Linked DNA regions of Homo sapiens. The protein of the gene in region 1 interacts with the protein of each later gene in a pairwise test. Each region holds a gene or a part of one and is shown on either strand. Other genes may lie near its edges.

Region 1 (8,240 bases):
GCAGGATCCTTAACCCTGAACAGCTCGACATTTTTCCGATGCCAAGTAAATGAGTAAATAAATGGATGGGGGGAGTGACGTTGTAGGAGACGGTTGAGAAGGGGGTACAGAGGAAAATCTGCAAAACAAAAGTACAGTCATTAAAAATTAATAAAGGGTGTGGACATCCAGACCCCACCCCCGTCTGCTCATGGGGATTGAGCCAGACATTCTGTGTCCTCGTTAAGTGGAGTCTGGCAGGCTGCCGGAGTGTTAGTGGGTTCTGGGAATGCCAATATATTAACCAGAGGACTTTTTGCATACCCTTTAGAGTTTTTATTCTAGAAAAGTCAACCATTTGGCACAGTGCAGCATTATTTTTGTCCGGGAAAGCTCGCAGCTGCCAATCAAGGGAGAAATTATATCTATGTTCTTTGTAATCTCCAAGACCTATCTGGAAAACAAGCTTGGTGGAAAGAAAAGTCTTCACAAAAACAGCTTAAAAGGCCAAAGTACCATTTTTAGTGAGAACTCAAAAGAAAAGCAATCCATTCTTAAATCACATGGATATGTGACAATACAGACATCATTTTCAATTCCTCCTGTGATGGAAAAAAATGACATTAACTGAAAATTCAAACCCAATATTTTCAGCATAATTAATAGTACAGGTACTAGCTTCAGTCCTTTCTCTGCCTAACAATGAAGCAAACAATGCCCCCCAAAAAATGTCCCTAAAAAGTGGCAGGTCTTGTGGCCTAAATTTTCAAATAGTAGACAGAACCTTTGCATTCCTATTTTGAAACTTAAGACTCATCTTCCATGTACACCCGTAATATAGGTCAAGATGTAATTCTAAACTAACACAGTTCATATAGGCAGAAAGTCTCTTTGACATCAGAAAATAATGGCTTCCAGGAGATTTTTTTCTGAGACCTAAAAAAAGGAAGGAACAGAGGGAGAGAGGGAAGGAGACAGAGAGGAAGGAAGAAAGAAAAGAATAATTTTGGACTACATAGCAATTTTGCCGCTATTCATATTTAATATCCATGTGCCGCTATACATTCTGTTAACTATTTCCAAAAATTTTTCCAGGTTAATATGGTGCGCTCTTCTTTTACAATGTTTTATCACTTCTTGAGGGATAACATTTTTCCTTCTCTACTAACTCTTACACAGGAAGAAGGACACATCATAGAGACTGGATAAGCCCAGATTCCAAAGAAAGATGAGAAGAAACATGGCAAGGACTACCAGAAAGATCAGAGCAGTCTACAATTTCAAGAATTCCTGCCCAGGGCCCTGAGGTGGCTTTGGTTTTACGTGATGACGTAGAGCAGTCACCTCCCACCCACCACAAGGAGACTTTATGCTGGCTACATGCAGAGACGTCAGGAGCTCAGGGATCTCTGCTGGACTGCCTGCCAGAAACCATGCACAAGGAGCAAAAGTCACTCTCCTCTGACTGTGCTTCCCTATCAGTCAGGGAGGTTACCCCTGCAGCAGCCCAGAGCAAAAACAGAGAGCGTCCCAGGAGCTATGAGGCTGGTCTGCCAGGCTGCTAAGTCAACCAAGACTACAGCACAGTCCCAAACTGTAAACACCTCTGCAGACGGGCCCTTGCTCTCCGCGTGCCAGGCAAGAAAACTATTCTTAGAACACTGTCAGCAGTTGGGGGAAAATAAATATTTGTCTATGTATGTATATACTCCAGTGGGAGTAGGGTGGGGTGCAGGAGTCTCAAATAATGTGCCAACAAATTGGCACAAAATCCCTTAATAAGCAGCTGGCACTGGCTGCGTTCCACTGCAGGATTGTGGTCTTGCAAACCAAGCCCATGAGAGGATTCAAGAGACAGCCCTAAAAACCTGCCGGGAAGAGTCTTCTCCAATGTAAATACAAACCTACACGAACCAGGACCATGGCCAACAATGGCAAGCCCTTCCAAGGGTAACAGCAGAATGTTAAGAAATTAGAGAGGTCATTTAAAACAAGGGAGGAAGGTAGCTACAATTCCATTACAGCAAATCCCTTACTGGCATTTACATTCCCAGCCCTAATTCCTAACACTGTGTTCAATGTCAATAGCAAAATGAAGCTCTTAAAAAGAATTAAGCTTTCAAAGATCATAAGGAAGTTAGCCCCCTGTTTTAAAAAGCACTGCTTAGAAAGGTCCATCAAATAACATTTCAAGGGTTGATGGGAAACCAAATATAATTCAATAAATATACATGGGTAATACTCAGACATCCTCATTTGTCTATGTAATGACTCAGATTTGACACTCTGATCCTTGACTGAACACAAAGACTATATTCCAGAAGAATTGTGCAGAGTACAAAGGGAGAGTTACAGATGACAACACACTCGAGTTAAAGACTAGAAAAGACAATACCATATACAGAATGCAGACATGACTTGATGCAATGGCAGTCTCCCTGTGCAGACTTTGCAGAACCTTCTCTGTCATTCAATACTCAGTCCTGAAGCTCCAGGGAAGATACAGAGAGGAGGATGCCATTCTTGGCTAGCCAAACCGGCAGAAAGGGCCGTTTTTAAAAGGAAGCTTCCCAGCACTAGCCCTTCGAGAAGGCACCAACCTCCTTACCAGCCATAGGACCCTATTTTTGAGAGTCAATGCTGCTCACCATCTCTATCCACCTCTACTGCAAATAACTTACTAATACTAGCGCTCAGAACCCACATTCTGTGCAGCTACTCTTACCTCACATCCTACAATGCCTAACACATAGTAGGCCCTCAATAAATATGTATTGCAATGGTAATTAACATTTAGAAAGCAGCGCTGGTCCGGGGATGAGAAGATGCCAAAATAATTAGAAAAGAGAAAAAGAGAAGGGAATAGACCAAGACACAGAGGAAAAGAAAAGAAGCAAATCAAAATTATCTAATTCTAGCTAATTAAAAAATTTTGGGGGAAAAACAAAAATCATGCTAGTTCATGCGGCTATGGGCACACAGCAACCATTCCTGTGCCTGGGCAGAGCTAAGGAGTCCTGCTTGCTTTAAAGAGCTTCTAGCTGCCCTGACTGGCGACGAGGTGTCCCTCCAGGTAGGTGACCCAAGAACGCTGTACTCTCGGATGCGCCTTCCCCCAGTGCCGCCCACCCACCATGCGTCCCTGTCGTCCTGAAAACCTCTGCCTCATCGGGAAACCTTCTCCTTTTCCAATTAAAAAAAAAAAAAAAAAAGTTTAAACAAGCAAATGCCCTCTCCGCCACGATAGCGATTTAACCTAAACCGAACCCACTGTCTTCCACCGGTGTACTCACAGGGCGCGCCCCCAGGCCCACCCGGGGCGGCGCACCGGGAAGGGGTCCCGAGGAAGCTTCCTAAAGGCTGTGCAGGGCAGACCCCTTCACAAAGGCAAGTGCCGGGCCGGGCTGGGTGCTTGTCGCTTCCTGTTTATTCCAAGGTGAGGGGCAGAGAGAAATTCAACACACGCCTGCTTCCTCCGGGGCTCGGAGACCCAGCCTAAGTGCAACAGCAGCAGCCCCAGACAATCGACTTCCCAGCCAATGCCGGGAGCTCCGGGCGGTCCCGCGACCGACGTCAACGCGCGCGGGGGGACCCGGGGGGACGCCGGGTGAAGCGGGCCCGAGGGGCCGGGGCCGGGGAGCGCGCGGTGCAGGATGCGGGACTGAGGGGCTGCGGGGCTTGGCCCGCCCCCTCCTTCCCGCAAACTCCCCGGTCAGGTCCTGCAGGATCTTCCCGCTTCCCGCTGACCTCCAGTCCCTGCCCGCCACGGCTCGCCGAGGCCTAGGGGCGCGGAGACAGTTGGGGCTGCCATCCGCGCGCCCATCCTGGCCTCCGGGCGGTGCAGAATTCAGTCTTGCAACCGCGGGACACCCTGCGCCCCAGGGCACCAGGAAACAGAAAACGGGGTGGGGGTCGGCGAAGTCCCTCCACCGGCGTAACCCCGCCCGCGGGCCAGCCCCGGATCCCCGCCGTGCCCACCGGCAAGCCCACCCGGACCAAGCCTCACAGACCTCGCGCGCTCGGCGCCCAGCTTCTCCCTCCGGCCCCAGCCGACGGCGCAGGCTCGCGGACGTCCAGTTCCCAAAGCGTCCGGTTCCCGAGTCCCCCGCCACCCCTCCCTCCGGAGCGCAGCGGTGAACTTGGGCCAGAAGCCCCGACCACTGCGGCCACCTCGGGTCCGCACTCACCTGGGCCGCCCCCCCGGAGCGGAGGCGGGGACTGCCCGCAGTGCGGCTCCGCGGCCACCGGCCCTGCTGGCCAGGGGGAGGGGCGCTGTGCGGGGCGCGGCAGGGGGCGCGCGGCGGGCCGGCGGGGAGCGCGGCGCGCCGGGGTTCTTTAAGAGCTGAGGACCTCACCCCCGGGCCTCCCCCGCGCTCCCCGCCCTGCTTCCACTTTCCCAGGCACCCGCAGCCTGTCTGGCTGCAGCGGCGGCAGCGGCTCAGTGGCTTGCAGGGGATCCCCGGCCGGCCGCGGCGGCGCGCGGAGCGGGCAGGGCCAACGCACTCGCCTGCTAATCCCGCCGGGCCCGGTCCGCAGCCTCAGCGCGGGGAGAGAGGGGACGCGGCGCTGCGGCCGCCGGGGAGGTGTCCCGCCTCCAGTCGCCGGAGGGGGGAGTGTCCCGCCTCCCGCCGCCGTCGCCGCCGTCTGTCTCCAGCCGTGACTGCGCGCCGCGGCTGTGTCTGTCTCCAACTCCTCCAGTCTCTCCTCCTCCTTCCCACTCCGCGGTGGGGACCCGGCGCGCGGCCAGGCCGCGGGTACCGGGGCCGCCGTGGCGGGGGCTCAGGGGTCCCCGGCTCACAGGCTGCGCCGACCCCTGCGGGGGGCGGGCCCGGAGGCCGGGGGTGGGCAGTGGGGGAGGCGCGCGGGCGCCGAGGCCGCGGGACCCGGGGCCGCACTCCCGCCCAGGGCTCGGGCCCGCGTGGCGCGCGCCCACCGCCGGCCGCACGGGGAACTCCAAGCCGAGCGCAGAGTACGCTGCAGGGGCGCCCGGAGGAGCCGGCTCGCTGCCCGCAGGCCGGGGGCGGTTTCGGGAGGCTGGGGGCGCGTTCCAGCACAGAGTACCTCGCGGGCTGCGTGTGCACCACGGGCCGCGGGACCTCGGGCAGCCGCCTAGAGACGTGCAGTCGGGCGGCAGGACACTTAGTAGGACGGAGCAGTGCTCGGCGAGCCTTGAGGAGCTTGAGGCGCCCCCGGACCCCACCTGGTCGCCCCCTTAGTATCCTGCCCTCTTTAAAGGAAATGGCTCCTGCCTAGAAGGTCAGATGGATTCTTCGCGCTGTGACCCTTTCTCCTTGAAGGACCTACACCTCCTGTGAAGACCATTTCGGACTTGACCTCCACCTGAGTGCAGACTTTGTTCAGAAGTACACGCATTGCCTCCAGCCACCCCTACCATGTTTGATGGGGGATTGGTTACTGCCAGAGCATATGAGCATTTTAACCCAATTTTATTGCAGTCACCAAAATTAGTTCGCCTCTGCCAAAATTAACCCCCCTGCAGACATATCAAAATACTACACTAAGCAGGGGTTTCAGGCTGGGTTTAAGATAGATGCAGCTGATTAAAGGAGTGAACATTTTCAACTGTCCCCACACACCCCCCAAAAAGTTGTCCAGTTCATATTTCCGTAATGTCAGAGAAATGAATCTTTTGAAACCTACGTTTTGTCTAATTTGTCAGTGACTTTTTAGTTAGTGAAATGTTGGCTGAATTCAGTTTCCCTTAAGCCCTCAGCTCTCAGCTATGGTGGTAATTGCCGCTAGCCTTTGATCAGTGCTCATATGTGATGTAATAATAACTACCATTCATGGAGCGCTTCTGTGCTAAGCGCTTTACATGGATTGTCTGATTGAGTCCTCACAATAACTGGGAGCTATTACTTCTCCATTTTACACATGACGAAGTTGAGGCTAGAAGGATTTAGTAATTTGTCCTCAGACCACAAAGAGATGGTTTTACATCCCTAACTAGCTGCATAGAAAGCTGGGAGCTGAACCAGCATGCCATACTGCCACCTACCTACAGCAGCGCTGACAGTTCTTCAGCTCAGCCCGCAAACCAGCCAGCATCTGCCCTGTGCCCGGCAATGAGCCCGCTCCAGCTGGGAATGCCCAGGTCCTGGTCTAACTGAGAAGCTTGTAGCAGGGGAACTTTGAACCTGGCTGCCTGGGTAAACTTTTTTAAATGAGCAATAAGCTGATAAGTGCTTCACACAGGTTATCCTAATCTGACAAGCATATACTTAGTTTATATTTAATGTCCACAAATGCAAAACTCACATGCTTTGGGGTTGGAGAAACTGTGCTCTTGCCCTCTTTAGGTAGAAAAAGAAATGACTTTTTCCATCTAAACGCCCCATGGACAATGAAGAAGAAAAGTTTTTCCAAAACCACAAAGCAATGCCTTCTATTTCACTTGCACATAATTTCTCTGTGTCTAACTTAACCGCCTTAAATTGAGGGCTGAATTTTAAAATCATAATCTCAATTTCTACCATTTGTGATGAATCTCAATCTCGTGTTGCCCTTTCTTATCTTATTTATAACTAGAAACTGCTGCGGCTCTGTATTTCTATCTCTAGAAAATATGGGAGGAACCTGTCCCTGTGTTTTCTTTTTTTTGTTTTGTTTTGTTTTGTTTTTTGAGGCGGAGTCTCGCTCTGTCGCCCAAGCTGGAGTGCAATGGCGTGATCTCGGCTCACTGCAAACCCCGCCTCCCAGGTTCATGCCATTCTCCTGCCTCAGCCTCCCGAGTAGCTGGGACTACAGGTGCCCGCCACCACGCCCAACTAATTTTTTGTATTTTTAATAGAGACGGGGTTTCACCGTGTCAGCCAGGATGGTCTCGATCTCCTGACCTCGTGATCCGCCCGCCTTGGCCTCCCAAAGTGCTGGGATTACAGGCGTGAGCCACCGTGCCCGGCCTGTCCCTGTGTTTCCTACTCAGTCCTCCCTGTATTTGTTTTCCACTTCAGCTATTCCCTCCCACACCCTTCCAGACACACACACTCTCCCTATAGCAATGCTAAGAGTTCGAGGTACTTAGATGTAAGTTTGCTCTCTGTAAAATGCAACATGATTCTACATCGGCTTCATCCTGACCATTCGCTCATTCCAAGGGCCCAGACTGAAGCGCAGCAGAGCGGAGACTTTGTTTTGCTCCGTTGGTGGAGAACTTGGACCCCAGTACACAGAATAGTGCCTGACACAAGGGGCTCAAAGGGTTTTTTGGAATGAATGGTACCTTAGTATTGGGATAGATGAGTAAACAATATTGAGATAAATATTACTAAAATTGGGTGGAAATCAACTGAAATTGGTTTCAAAGAGTGAGAGGTGAAAAAGATTATTTTTCACTGTCAATCCTTGCAGCCTGTCTCATGTCAATTATACCCTGGCCATACTTAGTCCATAGAAGTTTGCTAGTCAGTCATCTAAGGAGACATAAATAGAAAAGGGAAACATGAACGAATGTTGAGAAAAAGGGAATTTGAGGGCCAAGTGACCTCAAGTTGAATGTGAATTTGAGAACACAATTTTGTTTCTTGGATCTCATGCATAACATTTAAATGAAATTTATCCAATATGATTCATCCTATGCCTTGTACTCTTTAATTTAAATGAGAAATAGAAGGAAATGAGAAAGAGAAGCTTCATGTGGGTAATTCTGGTCCTGGAGAAGTGGGAGCCCCGCTCTAGATTCTCAGGACCAGAATCTACGATGAGCAGCCCCGGAGCAAGGGCTCTGTCCCTGAGCCTGGACGACTTCTCCTGCGCGTTTCGCCCCAACACGCAGCATCGCCACACCTCAGCGTCTATCTGTACACTGGAAGTAATAGTTACTACTTCATGGGGTCTTCTGTGACACTGGCCAAGTCCCCATCTGCATACCCATCCCCTCCCTGGGATCCTGTGGACCCCGCTGCTCCAGGACCCACCAACCTCATTCACTTCCTTTGGGATCAGGTTGAAAATCACACAGGATGGAAAGAGAAGTGTTCTGCAGGCAACTTCTGCTCTCAGCCTGGCTGCAGAGCTCTCTCCTTGGGCAAAAGCCACAGCACCTGCTCTCTCCTTAGGGGCCAGGGAGTGAAGACAAAGGGAAAACACAGCAAGAAAGAAAGAAATGTGTGACCTCAAAGACAATCCATCCAGACATATTTGTGTGTGGTATCTACACATTACATCGCTGAAAAATGATGAAGCGTTTCCTGAGCTGTGATACATGTACTGTCAGATCTCTTACAAATATTACAGTACCT
Region 2 (7,941 bases), on another chromosome or scaffold:
CTCAGAGAATCTGAGCCATGGTTGTTTACCAACTTTCTTAGTTGTAAGAATTTCTTAGTATTTTCAATACTTATTTTAAATATTTGAATAGCTAGTATGGCTGCATCAGTACAGTCCAGCCCTGCTACCAACAGTGCCCATACAATCATATCAAATCCAATTTAAAACCATATATTTTATTGATGTTCTTCAAGGACAATACAGGGCCATGTGTACAAATGCTACTCAAGTCTCACATCTGGCAACCTCCCCACCGTCATCCCCCATTGACCAGTCTGCAAGCAGCCAACATCCTGTAGGTCTCCCTGTTGCCCTTCCCCAGGATGTCAGGCCTCACCGTGCTGAGCCTTCAGGAGGCTGGAAATAGCAGGGCTGGCTTCTAAGCTTGAGCTCTGGAGCCAGGAAAGAGTCAAGGCCAAAATTGCCCAGATCTTCCCCTCCTCCCTCTCCCTCCCATTGCTTAAGTATGGCCAGAATTGTGGGTGAAAATGCCCCCAGCGACTCCTCCATTGAGGCAGCCTAGGCTTCCCCTCTTCAGCCATCTCTATCACATTCTTTATTTCCAAATGACCTGCCCCACCAACCACCAAGATGGCAGAGTGACCATTTTGCAGGGAGTGTGAATCAGTGCACAGACGGCAGTGACAAGGTGCCCCTGATGGCATGAATCTTGTCATCCTGTTCATCACTGCATTGCCAGTGCCTGGAAGAGGCTGGGAACGTAGTTGGCACTCAATAAATATACGTAGGATGGATGAGTGAAGGAATGAGTATGGGAGGGAGAAATGTGAGCAGGTGGAGCCAATACTACATTAGCTCTCTAGGGGGTGTGAAGGCAGAACCACAGTAAAGTCCTCCCAATCTCTGCTCAAGAACCCAGGCTGTTGCGCAGCTATCAGCGGGTCACTGCAGTTGGCGGTTGGACATTGCAGGGCATGGATTCAGCACTGCTGCCTGCATGGATGTCATATTGGCTTTGGGACCCAGTCAGGAGGGGGCACTTGTGTTGTCCCTACTCCCTTATATGCCCCAGAGGTCTGGTCCTCTAGGTTTCAGAAAACACACAGCAGTGCCTCCACCGGAGTCAGTCAGATGCGCAGGGATGGTCTGGGAATTGCACCCTTATATTCTGGTCATCTCCACTCCTCAGCCTTAGCTCACCACTGCCCCCCATGCCCTGCCACTGACAATGACACTGCTCCATCTCCCTGTCCTCAAATGTCAGTCCCCTCAACCACCCAGGTAGCCCTGTCTCTGCAGAGACTCTCTCTTCAGTGGCTGGGTTGGGTCCTGATTTTCAGACCCCTCCCATGCCCACACTCCCCTCTAGGAAAGCAAATATCTCACAGGCATCTCTGCAGATCTTGCCTCTGGGTCCAGCAATCACAACCAGGACATCAGAACCTTGGGGTTGGAAGGAATGTGTAAGCTCACCTAGAATGACCCTGTACAGAAATCCCTTCCACAGCATGCCTGGCAGACGACTGCCTAGACTCTGCTGGAATACCTCCAGTGATGGGGCACTCACTACCTTCACAGGCAGCCATTCAAACATTGAAGAGTTTCAGCTGCTGGAATGCCCTTTGTATAGGGCATAAATGAACCCAATTGTCCCTCTCACTTCTCCCTTTCCCCTAGGCATTATTCCTATATGTTTCTAACAACACTTCTCACCACCACCCATCTCTCTCTCTCTCTCTCTCACACACACACACACACACACACACACACTTCCATATGGTTATACAGTCGAATATCCCCTTCATTTATCAGTAATTATCTTTCCCTGTCCCTTCTTCCTTGCCTTCCCATCATCTGGCAAAGACCTGGGGGCTGGAGATCAAGTAGAAAGGCTGGAAGAGTTCCAGGGACAGGAAGCATCCAGCCAGGTCCTGGACTGGGCTGGGCCGGCCAGATGGGGCAGGGTGGACAGGGAATAACATTTGGAAAAAGCAGGCCATTGATTGCTGTCTCCCAGAAAAAGGGTCTTGAACCTGGTGGGGGGTGGTGAGGGAGCAGCAAGCTACTAAGTTCTTTTTCCTACAGAGGGGATGCGGACACACACCCACTCTTTCCCAACTCCCCTAGCAGTTGGCAGAGCTGACTTGGCTGCCTCTTACACGTGGTGATTTTAAACATTTGCCAGCCTCTAGGTCCCAGGGAGTCTCATACCAGCAGCAAGAATCCACTCCCCTCTCCCAACATGGGGGCTGAGAGGAAGGGCTCTAGCAGACAGCAGTGATGAATGAGACACGGTGGAGAATGGATGAGCCAGGAAGAGGGGGAAAGCAGGGATCCCAAGGGGACGGAAAGAAAGCAGAGGCAGCCTAACAGCTAGCAGCCACCTGGCTGGCTCGTGAGGAGCCTAGAAATGCCTGGGGGGACATTTTTCCTCCTTGTCATGATCCACCAGCTCACGCTGTTCTCATGGGTGGAAGGTGAGGGGAAGATGCTAGGACCTTACCAGCACAAGGTTGTAGTGAGTCATGGGTGGAGACAAGGCTGCCATGGTTTTATGCTCAGGAGGAGTCAAGACAGAGACAGAGAGATAAATGACGGGAGTGTCTACTACTTATCCTGCTGCTTGGAGCTCTCACTTCCGACATTGAACATGGGGACCAGCAGGCCCAGCAGCCACCTCTTTCCGAAGACCTCTTGTAAGTTCTTGCGCCAGGGCCGGGCCCTCACTGCCACCCCCTTCCGCACCTGGTGGCGGGTCTGCCCGCGGAGGATCAACAGCAGCTGGTGGCAGCAGAAGCCGGCGCAGGCCAGGCCGATGGCGAACCAGAGGTAGAGCATGAGGATGACGAACATTTCAGAACCCAGGACAGCTCCTGCAGGGCACGGGGAGGGGAAACACCAGAGCCGCTTTACACCCAGGCCACCGGCATAACTGCGATCTAGGCAGGCTTTCCACCGGGAGGGAGGGAGATTAATGAGATTGACGCTACATTTTGTAGCAACCTCAGCGCTGCAGCTGCAGTGAGGGAGAGGAAGGAAGAACCAGCTGCCCTAACTTTTTCTTGGCGCGGATGGCACCTGAGGCAAGAGGGGAAGACTGGAGACATGGCAGAGAAGAGAGCTAAGTTTGATGAGCTTAGCAAGGACAGCCCTCAGCTCCTGGGGCAGCACCTGGCCGCTGATAACATTTCTGTAGAGTAGGAGATGCCTGTCTCTCTCTGCTTTCTCCTTTTGGGCTAGAAGCAGGGTGAAGGGGTTTTGCTCAGGAGGAGAGAGGGGTGAGCTGGGGACCCTAAAGAGGGAGCAGGTGCCTGGGCAGCTGTCTAGTCCACAGCACCTTCTCCCTACTGTTCTGGGAACGCTGGTTGAGAGGACTCAGGAAAATGACAGCATGATGGAGATCTGGGAAGAATAAGTCACGAGCTTAGTCTGAAGAGCAGCCCAGAACACCAACGTAGAGAATAATTCAGTCATTAATGTTAACAAGAGGACAGTGTGGCCACCACCGCATTCCACCAGAGCTGGTTCTGTCAATCAAAGCTTGCTAGAAGAGGCCCCCAAGGTCATCAGCCCTGTGTCGTGGGGCAGGATCTCCCCAGAATCCCTCTAAACCAAGCACTTCCTATTACTGGTTTGAAATAACCACTGAGTAAGAGCTCCCACACTCTTCCTCAGAGTTTGGGTGGCTGGTCCATGCTAGGTTTGAATCTCCCAGCTGTGTGGACTGGCACAAGTGTCCCAACCTCTCAGTTGCAGCTCGTTCATCTGTACAATGGGTATAATAACACTAACGATTTCATACAGCTGCATGTTTCAAGAAAATGATGTACAGAGTGGTCAGCATTCCGGTTCACACTCAGAGCGGTGCTCCCAGCAGAGGGTCATTTTACAGAGCAGGAGACTACATCCAAAATGAGTTCAACTCCTGAAACTATCAAGCTTTTTCCTTCTCCTTTTCAGGGCTTAGAGTCCTGGCTGGGCTGCAACTTTGGCAGCTGTGGCAAAGACACTTACCTTGACCTACCCAGCAGCCAGGGCACTGGACCCTGGAGTTAATTCGAAAGTATTCCTTAGCCTTTGGTTCCCTGTAGGGCAACCCTATCACCTCCTCTGGTGGGGGGGGGGCACCTCCTCTAAGGACTCCACCTTACAACCTATTCTGCCCTTGAAAATCTCAACCATATTTTGCCCTTTCCCTAGCCTTCTCTTGCCCCAGCCCACCTCTTCCCAAGTCTCTCCAACCTCCAATTTCCAAAGCCCTGTCAACTGGGCTTTCAACACTTGTCCAGTATGAGCAGTGGTGGACTCAGCAGCCATGGAGGATGTGGATCTGATTTAGATTCTCTCATTAGCAGCCTCCTCTTGTCCTCATCCCTAGGAGCTTGGATAGCTGTATTATTTTTTTTTTTTTTTACAAAGCTGGGGACAGATAGGCCCAGCTGCCATTTACAGCAGCCCCTCCACTGGCACAGGGGCAGCAGTGGGACAGGGCTCACATTGGGCTGTGCCATCCCCTGACCCACTTCTTCCATGTCGGCACAGATTAGCTTGGGCAGCCATGTGGGGGATGGAGGATCCCAGGTCCATGGTGCTCTTTGGCGTGAGGAATGCTGACAGGCAAAGGTGGCCCTCAAGCTGGGATGTGAGAACATCAGAGCTGTCAAGCTTGGGCCTGCCTTGCAACACTGCCCCAGGAACAAGCCTGGGTGGATGGAAGCCATTTCCCACAGGGTTTTTTCCTGGCACTAAATCAAGGCATGAGAAAAAGAACTTGCGGCCTTTTCTTGGCCCCATGCAGCAGCTACAAAAGGCTATTCTGGGGACCTGCTTTCTCTAAAAGTGTTTGAAGTTACCTAGCCTGGCTGCTTCAGCTCCTCTTAACTATTTAATAATAGTTCTGCCTCTTTTTAAAAATCACAGAATTTTCCTAATGAGCCTAAAAGGACACATCAGTCAATCTCCCCTGCCCCTTCCTCCCAACAGGCATCTATAACACCTTTGACAAATAATCACCCAGCATACTTTTTAATACATCCAAGGACAAGTAGCTGCCTCCCTTCCAAAGTGGCTCATTCGAGAAGCAGCTTCAGAGAGGCAGCCCCCAAGAGGCAGTATGGTGGGTGGAAAGAGTATGAGCTTTGGAGGCTAGAAGCCCCAACTCCAAATCTTGGTTTGGAATCGTACCAGCTGTGTGGTGTTGGTGCAACTTAACCTTGCTGAGTCTTTGGTTTCTGAGCCTTAAAAATGGACATGATAATATGGACTTGTCAAGAGGAATGGGTGAAATGTGACATGCATAGTGGGTGGTACATAATAGGTGCTCAATGAACATTAGTCCCCTTTCCCTCTTACTGGACTTTCTGGTAGCACCCATCATGCTGGTGTACTTACCCAAATGCCAAGATACAGGTCAGATGGTGGCATCTCCATTTCCCAGATAAGAATAAGGTTCAGAGAGGTGACACAGCAACCTGTACTGGTCCCACAAAGCCAAAAGAAAGGGTAACTTCTGAAACCTAACTAGCTAGCCGCCTCCCTCTCTGGATCAGCTGAGGGCCTGTGGTTGGCCGCCACCTTCACACTAGAAGACCCCTCCCACTTTTAGCTCTCAAGGCCCAAACTCACAGCCATCCATGCTCTGGTGACAGATCTGACTCAGATCTGTACCACAGTTGGGGACAGCTCAATTTCTTTCTTTCTTTTTTTCTTGAGACAGGGTCTTGCTCTGTAGCCCAGGCTGGATAGAGTGCAGTGGCATGATCATAGCTCACTGCAGCCTCAAACTCTTGGGCTCAAGCAATTCTCTCACCTCAGCCTCCTGAGTAGCTGGGAAAACAGGCACATGCCACTATGCCTGGCTAGTGTATTTATTTATTTTTTATTTTTGTAGCAACGGAGTCTCACCATCTTGCCCAGGCTGATCTTGAACTCAATTTCTATTAAACAACCCATGCTTCTTACTCTTTTCTGTCCACCTGTCCTCCTGTGCAGATGAGAGAGGGTGCTACCAACTGTTCGGATTGAGGGTTGGGGAACAAGAGGAATGGGAAAGGGAAAGCCAAACAGGTGGGGTGTATGTCATGGGAGGGAAAGAAAGGAAGGTCCTCAAGAGGAAAGATGAAAGGTCACAAAAGATGAGATAGGAGAGTTGGAGGTAAGAAGTCTTGCTCGCCTGTTTCCAGTGGATATGGTGAGGAAGTGAAAGACACTGGAACTCATGCTGGCACAGGAGTCTGGGCCCCAAGGTGGGCACTCACTGGCTCTGTTCTCCCATCAGATCAAACCTAGCACATATGGACAGGCCTCAAGCCCAGATTTATCTCAAATCAAACCATTTCAAGGTCTTCCTTCTGGAACCATCCATTTTTACGGTTGGCGAAACTACTTGGAAAAGAAAGTATAAGCAGGCTTGTTGGCTCTCTTCATCCCTCCACCTGCCTGTGCTCACACTCCACCCACTAGCCCACCCACCCACCCTCCCCCGTCCTGGTTATTTTGGTCCCGGCAGCCTCCTGTGCCAGTGCTGGGATCCAGAAGGCCTGAAAGCTGTGAGTTCTGGACCCAGCTCAGCCACCAGCCCTGAAGGCAGCCCCCGTAGCTGGGTCCCCCCTGTATCTCTGTGTTCCCACTGCCAAATGGCATGATAGTTCTATGCCTGGGAAGAACTGGGCTGTAGCCACCACAAAGACTGAAATGATGGCTTCCCCCAGAGTAGAGCAGAATTTTTATGAATGTTCAGCCCAGGCACCTCAAAACAATCTTGGGCTTTCAGAGGAAGTAGCTGCCCTCTGCCTTTCTTTGCTCCTAGAAGGCCAACAGGTGAGGAAGCATGTTCTATTCCCTGAGCCACTGCAGAAGAGCTGTGGATTAAGGACCTGAGAGGCAGACCAGAGACTGCCACTCAGTAGCAGGAAGACACTGGGCAAGCCACTTAGTCCCGTCTGAGTCTCGGTTTCATCATCTGAGAAATGGAGATAGCAATGCTATACATGCACACTCAAGCACGTAGACACTACTGATTGTGGAAGCTAAGCCATTCAGAGTCAAAGGCCAGGGTAGGGAGGAAGTGGAAGGAAACGCAGTAGGAGCCAGTCTCAAGGCCAAATAAAGTGGTAAGAACTGCCACCAGGAGCTGAGTCCTTCTAGGGCCAGGTATCAGGTAGTGGTCCTTGGTGCATACTAGTTAAAGTGCAGTCCTCAGCCAGGCGCAGTGGCTCACATCTGTAAATCCCAGCACTTTGGGAGGCCAAGGTGGGCGGATCACTTTAGGTCAAGAGTTCAAGGCCCGCCTGGCCAACACAGTAAAACACCATCTCTACTAAAAATACAAAAATTAGTGTGGCGTGGTGGCACGCACCTGTAATCCCAGCTACTCGGGAGGTTGAGGCAAGAGAATCACTTGAACCTGGGAGGTAGAGGTTACAGTAAGCAGAGATTGCTTTCACCACTGCGCTTCAGCCTGTGTGATGGAGTGAGACTCTGTCTTAAAAAAAAAAAACAAAAAACCTGCCTCTCCCACCCACGTTCCCTCTGCTCTGAGCCATCAGCAGGCTGGAGAACAGGCTGGTGAGGTCAAACATAATAGGCAGGAGGACAGAGCTTAGCCTCCTGCTGGGCTGGGCTGGCAACAAGTTCAATATTACTGCAATTGGTTGGTGAGACCTCTGGAGAGCAGAGTCCTTGGGTGACATGTAAGCAGAACTGGGGACCAGGCAGAGGAATGTCATAGCATGGTTGTACCTCATGGGGCTACATGGAGGAATGGCCAGCACCTAGTCCTGCCTGGCACAGAGCAGGTGTATTACCTGGATGCCACAACTCTGTGAGCATATGGACAGCATGATGGATGAGAATGATGGGGGCAAGGGGGGATGTTACCAATAAAATACAGCATGTCCGCTTAATTTGCATTTCAGATAGCCAATAGCAAATTTTCTCAGTGTATCTCATACAATATCTGGGACATAATTATACTAAAAA

The links. Proteins that work in one complex are often made in the same cells at the same time.
Region 2: the proteins of LDLRAD4 (region 1) and ZDHHC22 interact in binary tests that used the Homo sapiens proteins (3 or more experiments, as listed by UniProt).

What each region holds. Positions count from the first base shown.
Region 1 is NC_000018.10:13,214,021-13,222,260, reverse strand, and holds the start of LDLRAD4 (low-density lipoprotein receptor class A domain-containing protein 4 isoform alpha 1), read right to left. Parts: upstream 3,502-8,240; 5' UTR 3,273-3,501; intron 1-3,272. UniProt on the Homo sapiens protein: Functions as a negative regulator of TGF-beta signaling and thereby probably plays a role in cell proliferation, differentiation, apoptosis, motility, extracellular matrix production and immunosuppression.
Region 2 is NC_000014.9:77,131,115-77,139,055, forward strand, and holds the end of ZDHHC22 (palmitoyltransferase ZDHHC22), read right to left. Parts: intron 2,835-7,941; coding exon 2,569-2,834; 3' UTR 156-2,568; downstream 1-155. UniProt on the Homo sapiens protein: Palmitoyltransferase that could catalyze the addition of palmitate onto various protein substrates and be involved in a variety of cellular processes. Catalyzes the palmitoylation of KCNMA1, regulating localization of KCNMA1 to the plasma membrane.